2 linked regions of the Homo sapiens genome follow. The protein of the gene in region 2 interacts with the protein of the main gene of each other region in a pairwise test. Each region holds a gene or a part of one and is shown on either strand. Other genes may lie near its edges.

Region 1 (3,648 bases), on a different chromosome or scaffold from region 2:
ACTGAGCAGGCTTAGCCTGGAGCAGAGCAGCCAAGCAGCAAGACTGGCCCACTGCACCATCCAAAGGACCACCGTGTAAAAGAAAGCAGAGTACAGAGTTGCATATCAGGTGGAGTGCGGTGGCTCACGCCTGTAATCCCAGAACTTTGAGAGGCTGAGGTGAGCGGATCACCTGAGATCAGGATTTCTAGATCAGCCTGGCCAACATGGTGAAACCCCATCTCTACTAAAAATGAGCTGGGCGTGTTGGCATGTGCCTGTAGTCCCAGCTACTTGGGAGGCTGAGGCAGGAGGATTGCTTGAACACAGGAGGTGGAGGCTGCAGTGAGTGAGCCAAGATCATGCCATTGCACTCCAACCTGGGCGACAGAGTGAGACTTCATCTCAAAAAAAAAAATGAGTTGCATATCAGAGAGAGGTCAGAGCAGGAGCAGGGGGTGAAAATCACATGGAGGCTGGTTGGAGTAGGTGAGATGAAGCTTTTCATTGATCACAGGTGTCTAAGAATGCAACTGTTGCCTTCAGGGGCAGTGAGCTCCTTGGCAAGAGGCTTTCAAGCAGAAGTTGGGTATGTTGAAAGGGAGATTCCTGGGAGTTTGGACCAGAGGCCCGGGAGGTATTGTTTCCGTGACAGGCTTCCGGTGTGCACATTGAGAAGTCCCTCATCCTTGTGTAAGAACAAGCTAAAGTGTGTGCTGAGTAGGGATGTGTGTCTTAGCCTGTGCCTGGCACTCTGCCACCCTAGTCATGCACCCAACACTGAGCCAGGCACTGAGAAGGAAACAAAGAAAGGAGGAGGAGAGAGGCCAAAAAAACCCCAAGCGACCTCAAGCCCCTGCTAGAGACAGGAACAAATGCTGGTTCCTGCAGGACCCTGAGGCCCACACACCAGTGCTATAGCTAAAATGGACGATCTGTCCTCTGATCAGCCCCAGTCTAGGCCTGACCTGCTCCCAAATGGTTCAGACCCTAACCCTGGGCCTACCCTGTCTGGGGAAACTGAGGCTGTGTGCAAGCCCAGCCCAGCAGTGCTGCCACCACCACCAACCCCAGACCCGCCACCGCCCAGCCTTTTCCCCTGCCTCCTGCCCACTCCATGAAGGGTATGTGGGGGCAGGAGGCCCTTGGGAATCACTTCTCTTGGCCCTCCCTCACCTGGTCTAGGCCAAGCTGCCTACATGGGAAGGAGAAGGTAAAACCCAGTGGGAGGCTCTGCCCGCTCAGGCCCTGCTTCTGCTGGAAGTCCACGATGCAGTCCACGATGTGGTCAAAGAGCTGTGGGGCAGGACAGGTCAGGCGTAGGCACTGCTCAGCCCTTCCCCACCTCTGACATCAAGGTTCAGGCTGTGGGTACCTGCTGCCCAGAACCCTGGGCCACAGTCTCGGGAATGGAGTAGATCTCGCTGGTGATCTGCACGCCTGTGGTCACACGTACCAGGAGGACACGGAAGTTCGTGCCCCCGAGGTCCAGGGCCAGGAAATCCCCTCGCTCTGTGGGGGCAGAGACCCTCAGTGCCGGGATAGGGCTTGTGGCTCCAGCCCCAGCACACACTGGGACCCCCAGGAGCCCATGTTTCGGTCCCACACTCAGGCCAGGTCCTTACCGCTGCCGTCAGGGGTGGCCCGGACGAAAGTGGGCAGCATGCGAAGGGAGGAGGCCTCCCCTCGGAGCCCCTTGGCCATGGCCTTCCGCATCTGTGCCTGAACCGCAGCCAGTTGATCATGGTTCAACCGGAATGGGGCCAGGGTCTCCTCCAGCAGGCGCCGGTGGGCAGCCAGACGGGCAGCCACGGCAGTCACCATCGCCACTCCCCGGCCACCACCATCCACAGAGGGGATTAAGGAGACATCGCATTCCGGGGCCAGGAGCATCACTGTCCCCTGCAGGACGCTGCAGAACCTACAGATACATACAGGTGCACCCGGCTTGGCCCTGGACCCCCAGACACACACAGGTGTGCACGGCTTGGCCCTGGACCCCCAGATACATACAGGTGTGCCCAGCTTGGCCCCAGACCCCTAGGGCCTCCTGAAGCCCAAGGCCCCATCACTTTTTTTTTTTTATTTTTGTAGATATCGAGTCTTGCTCTCTCACCCAAGCTAGAGTGCCACGGAGTGATCATGGCTTACTGTAACCTCAAACTCCCAGGCTCCAATGATCCTCCCACCTCAGCCTCCCAGTGTTGAGATTACAGGCGTGTACCACCATAGCCAGCCTCCCCTATCACTTCAATTTGAAATCTGTTCTGTGCACCAGCCATACGCCCCCGTGTCGCCATGGCCTCCACCCTTGCACACACAAAGGGAAGCATCGTTTCTCTCCTTGGATGTCTTCTGGCCTCCCATAGCTCAGTCTGGCCCTCCCTCTGCCTAAGTGCCCTTCGTGTCCACTGGCTTGCACATGTGATCCCAGAGGGCCCTCTGGGTGTGTATCACACACACGTGTTCATGCCAACTAATCATGCGGATCACGTTTCCACAATACCTGGGGTGCCGCTCACACACTCGGCCTCCGGTGGCCACAGCAACCTGGAGTGTTTGTTGCTCCCGGCTGTGCTGGAGGCAGGAGAGAACAGCGGCCAGGGCGGCAGCACAGAGCTGGGCAGCCCGCGTGCACACGGCCGCACAGACGTGCTGCACAAGCTCAACATCCGAAGCCCCAGGGCTCAGGCCCAAGTCCTGCAGGATAGCATGGACACGGGCTGCCCCAGTAGAGGGGCTGGAGGGGAAAGGGAAGTGGTTTGGGGCTCAGCCCAGAAGCTCCCCATCCCACTAAAGCCCCATGGCTACCTTGGGAACAGAGTATCATCCCCTTCCTCCAAGCCAAGAATCCCCCACTAAACCACCATCTCCCCGACTCACTCCTCCATCTCAGCCACGTGTTCCAGGAGGATGCTGCCTTGGCTCAGCAGGGCAGGGGAGGTGCAGCCACCAAAGAGGACCCCACACCGGGCCAAGTGAGCCAGCACCAGCCGCACCAGCTCACCCAGGTACAGGCCTCCGATCATCTTCTCAAACCTGCAGGGGGGAAGGGTGGCTGGAGGAAGCCTTTTCTAAGCCCTCAGTCCACCTGGCCCTACCTCCAAGAGTTCCCAAAGAAGGATTCTTTTCTTTGGGGCTCCCAAACTGGAGACTCCAGAAGCAACGAATAGCCTCCCAGAGGACAGGTGGGTGTATGCCCAGACCCCACTGCCCCCTCTGACATAGGTTACATTCAGAAGCCTCCTGGAGAACAAGAAGGACCCAAAGGAAGGCAGAGAGCAGTTTGCTCAACCACTTCCAGCCCTCAACCCCCAAACTGTCAGGGCAGGCCAGAGTCAGGAACAGGGAAGATCAAGGGTTGACAATTCTGGATTCTAGAACTTTGGGCCCTTCCTTCTTTGAACCTGGCCAGGGCCCCCAGGTTGCTCCCTGGAGACCCTCAGAGTGACAGGGAGGGGCCTAAGGGCCTGAGAACAGGGACAGAAGGGGTTGGGAGCAGAGCAGTCATAGACAGGGCCTGGAACCAAAGGTCAGGGCCCCCTGCCAGGTCACCTCTGAGCACCAGGATTCAGGGACTCATGGTCCAGGGTATGGTCGAAGGTGGTCAGCACTGGTCCCAGCGCCCCATCATCGCTGAAGGAGCCCCACTCGACGCTGACGCAGACG
Region 2 (3,648 bases):
CTTTTTACCGACTTCAAGACAGTAGAAACAGGGATATAATGAGCCATAGGGGAGTTGACTTACGTGATCCTAACACAGTCAATCCTTATTATTTGTGGATTCTGTGTGTGTGAATTTGCCTACTTGTAACCCCAAAGTCAGTATCTGTGGCACTTCCACAGTCATTCTTGGACATGTGCAGAGTGGCACGTTTGAGCTGCCCATGGCACGCATTTCCAGGTGAGGTCGAATGACCCTGCCTGAGGTTGACTGTCTGCTGTCTTGTTTCAGCTCTCATCCTCTAAACAAGTGCTCCTTTCGTGGTCTGTTGAGTACTTTCTACATTTTTGTGGTTTCTGTTGGTGATTTCGCTGTTTAAAATGACCCCCAAGCATAATGCTAAAGCACTGTCTAGAGTTCCTGAGGGCAAGAAGGCCGTGATGTGCTTACAGAGAAAATACATGTGTTGGATAAGCTTCGTTCAGGCATGAGCTACAGTGCTATTGGCTGTGAGTTTAATATTCATGAGTCAACAACATATATTACATAAGGTGACCTTCAACAGAAACATACATAAAACAAGATTAAGTGTTGTGACTAGGGTCTCACAGGAACCTAACTTGTAATTCCCCTGGGAACAGTGCTTCAGTGTTCACCAATTCAGTGTTCACAGTGACTTTGTAGAACATAAAAAAAATAAGTACTGACTATACCACGTTAAACAAGAAGATGCCTTAGTATTTGTAGGGTCCGGGAAGCAGTTGATGGTCAAAATCTGTGTTTACAGGGAACTTGGGAACACCCAGAGGATCTTATATTAAGGACATAATTCCTGGAGATAGTTATAAATAGTGGAATTATAGCATATATATCTTTAACTTAAACTATACACCATTAGAAGAAGACATACTAATTTTATTAATATGTGCCATTTGTGCGTCATCCTACTCAGTGGGTATATGCACCAGTGTAAGCCGGAGATGGGGAATTCCTCTTTGGTATCAACTCCTGGAACTTCTCTCAGGGGCTTGGCGTCTCTTGTTGAGTGAAAGGGCACTACTTCCTCTGAAATGATCCTCAAAAACAGACTCCCTGTTATGGACCAAAGGGGGTTTGTGAGGGTAATTTTAATTTGCTGACTTTGAACACAACCTATCTGTAAGAGTCAGTGACACCATATCTTCTTCTTGAGTAGGCTGACCCACCTTTTACTAGATTTTGCCATAAAGCAAGGGTTGTCTTTCAACTTTTCCAGTGCAACTATTCATGGAGTTATTTTACGAAACAGCAATGAGAAGTATGACACCCTAGCGACCATTGTGTTTCACCTAGTGGTGCTCCTCCCGGACGTTGAACTTTTCAAACAGAGCAATTCACTTATAATAATGGTCTCCAGTCTTCTGAATGCTTATATTTTGAAATGCCACATCTCTCATTCACTGCAGTGATTCCTCAGCTGTGGGGTGGGGAGGTGGGAAGCCACTTCCCTGTTGGGGTGCATTTTAGATTCTGGGTAGTGAAGTAGAGGTAGTGTGTAATTTGAAAGCCCTCCTTTCCCCTCCCCTCCTCTACTTTGGCTTTTGTTGTTGGTTTTATGTTCTGTCTCTTCAATAAGTAGCTATAGGTATTTAATCTCTCGAACATAGTCTGCCTATTTATAAAAGCAGCTTGTGGGCCGGGCACGTGGCTCACGCCTGTAATCCCAGCACTTTGGGAGGCCAAGGCGGGTGGATCACAAGATCAGGAGTTCAAGACCAGCCTGGCCAAGATGTTGAAGCCCCATCTCTACTAAAAATAGAAAAATTAGCTGGGCATGGTGGCGGGCGCCTGTAATCCCAGCTACTCGTGAGGCTGAGGCAGAGAATCACTTGAACCCGGGAGGCAGAGGTTGCAGTGAGCCAAGATCGCGCCACTGCATTCCAGCCTAGGCGACAGAGTGAGACTCCATCTCAAAAAAAAACAAAAAAATAAAAATAAAAATAAAACCAGCTTGTGGCCGGGTGCGGTGGTTCACGCCTCTAATCCCAGCACTTTGAGAGGCCAAGGTGGGTGGATCACGAGTTCAGGAGTTCGAGACCAGTCTGGCCAACATGGTGAAACCCTGTCTTTACCAAAAATACAAAAAAAAAAAAAGAAAAGAAAAGAAAAGAAAAATTAGCTGGGCATGGTGGTGGATGCCTATAATCCCAGCTACTCATGAGGCTGAGGCAGGAGAACCCGGGAGGCAGAGGTTGCGGTGAGCTGAGATTGTGCCATTGCACTCCAGCCTAGGCTATAGAGCAAGACTCCGTCTCAAAAAACAAACAAAAAAAAGCAGCTTGTACTAATGTGTTGTTTCCTTCTACAAGTATTAAAATGTAATAACTATTTTGAAAGAGAAGCTAGGTTTTGTTTTATTTTAGGGTTCCAAACATGTATATTCATATGAAATACGAATATTGTGAAATATGTGCATTGGAAATTCCATGGTGACGATATCTTGGTTTTCTTCCAGTGACGGTGTGAGGCAGCCTTTAGAACTTTTGCATATCACAGAAAACATTATTAATTAGGAAAGCTCTGTGATGCAATTAAGCCAGAGTTCTCTAGATGAGATTTATCACCTTATTTAGAAATCTGAGTAATGCTTTAATCGCTGATAAATATTTTTAATTAGACAACAAAGGATTAGAGTGAGATGTTTGCCTCTCTTAATCCAACTTTATTATTCTTTTTCTGAAAAGACAATCTGCCTGTGTGGAGGTACTGTTCTTATTAGCATGTTGGTGTAGATTTACAAGAGTCCATGTTTTCAGTATGGGCCTAAGGGCTTTCTTTCATTTTCACTCTAAGTGATGCATGCAAAAGTTTTCACAGAAGAAAGAGCATGAATCCTTTATGTCAGTGGAACTGCCATTTTATTAAATAGCCCAGGGCTTTCAAATGGTGCCTGAAGAAACTTGTGTTTCTGGAGATTATGTAAAGGAACTTGAAGGTACTTGTGTGACATGTCAAGCTCCTGGCTTTTACTCATATTGTATCCAAAGAAGGATTTTGCAGACCCAAAAACCTTGAATTTAGACTGAAACGTGGCTTTGCAGGCACATATGTTTCTCAGCTTGTGGGCAGAGGTTGAGAGGCCATGTCATATGGAGAGTCCTTCCCCTCTCTGATAAGGAAAGGTGACTTGCTTCAAATTTATATTCTCTTGCTATATATTATTGTTTCACAACCGTGGAAGGGATAGCATTGGAATGGAGAAGCAGAATGCTTATCAGGAATCAATTAAAGTCTGTGTGGTTCATTTTAGGAGTGCCCAGGGATACACTCAGAAAGGAAAAAGGGAAAGAGCTTGCTTGGAAGGCATTTTGCAATGAGTTACAGGGGGAATCAAGGGTATTTAGGAAGTGTATTACCCAGCTAGTGCTGCTGTAGTGAAATGCCACTGACTGGGTGGTAAACAAGAGTTATTTTCTCATAATTCTGGAGGCTAGTTGTTGTCCAAGATCAAGTTGTCAGCAGGGTTGGTCCCTTCTGAGGCCTCTCTCCTTGGCTTGTAGATGCCTGTCTTCTCCCTGTGTGTTCACATGGTCTTTTTTCCTGTGTGTGTCTGTCCCAATCTCCTCTTCTTACAAGGACACCAGTCCTATTGGGTTTAGGCCCACTAGTAAAATCTCTTTTTAAATTAAT

Evidence for each region. Proteins that work in one complex are often made in the same cells at the same time.
Region 1: the proteins of MITF (region 2) and HK3 interact in a two-hybrid assay, tested with the Homo sapiens proteins (one large-scale study listed by BioGRID and IntAct).

Annotation. Positions count from the first base shown.
Region 1 is NC_000005.10:176,885,847-176,889,494, forward strand, and holds part of HK3 (hexokinase-3), read right to left. Parts: coding exon 3,535-3,648; intron 3,019-3,534; coding exon 2,863-3,018; intron 2,720-2,862; coding exon 2,486-2,719; intron 1,901-2,485; coding exon 1,605-1,900; intron 1,492-1,604; coding exon 1,355-1,491; intron 1,276-1,354; coding exon 1,156-1,275; intron 52-1,155; coding exon of another isoform or gene 1-51. UniProt on the Homo sapiens protein: Catalyzes the phosphorylation of hexose, such as D-glucose and D-fructose, to hexose 6-phosphate (D-glucose 6-phosphate and D-fructose 6-phosphate, respectively).
Region 2 is NC_000003.12:69,959,452-69,963,099, forward strand, and holds part of MITF (microphthalmia-associated transcription factor), read left to right. Parts: intron 1-3,648. UniProt on the Homo sapiens protein: Transcription factor that acts as a master regulator of melanocyte survival and differentiation as well as melanosome biogenesis.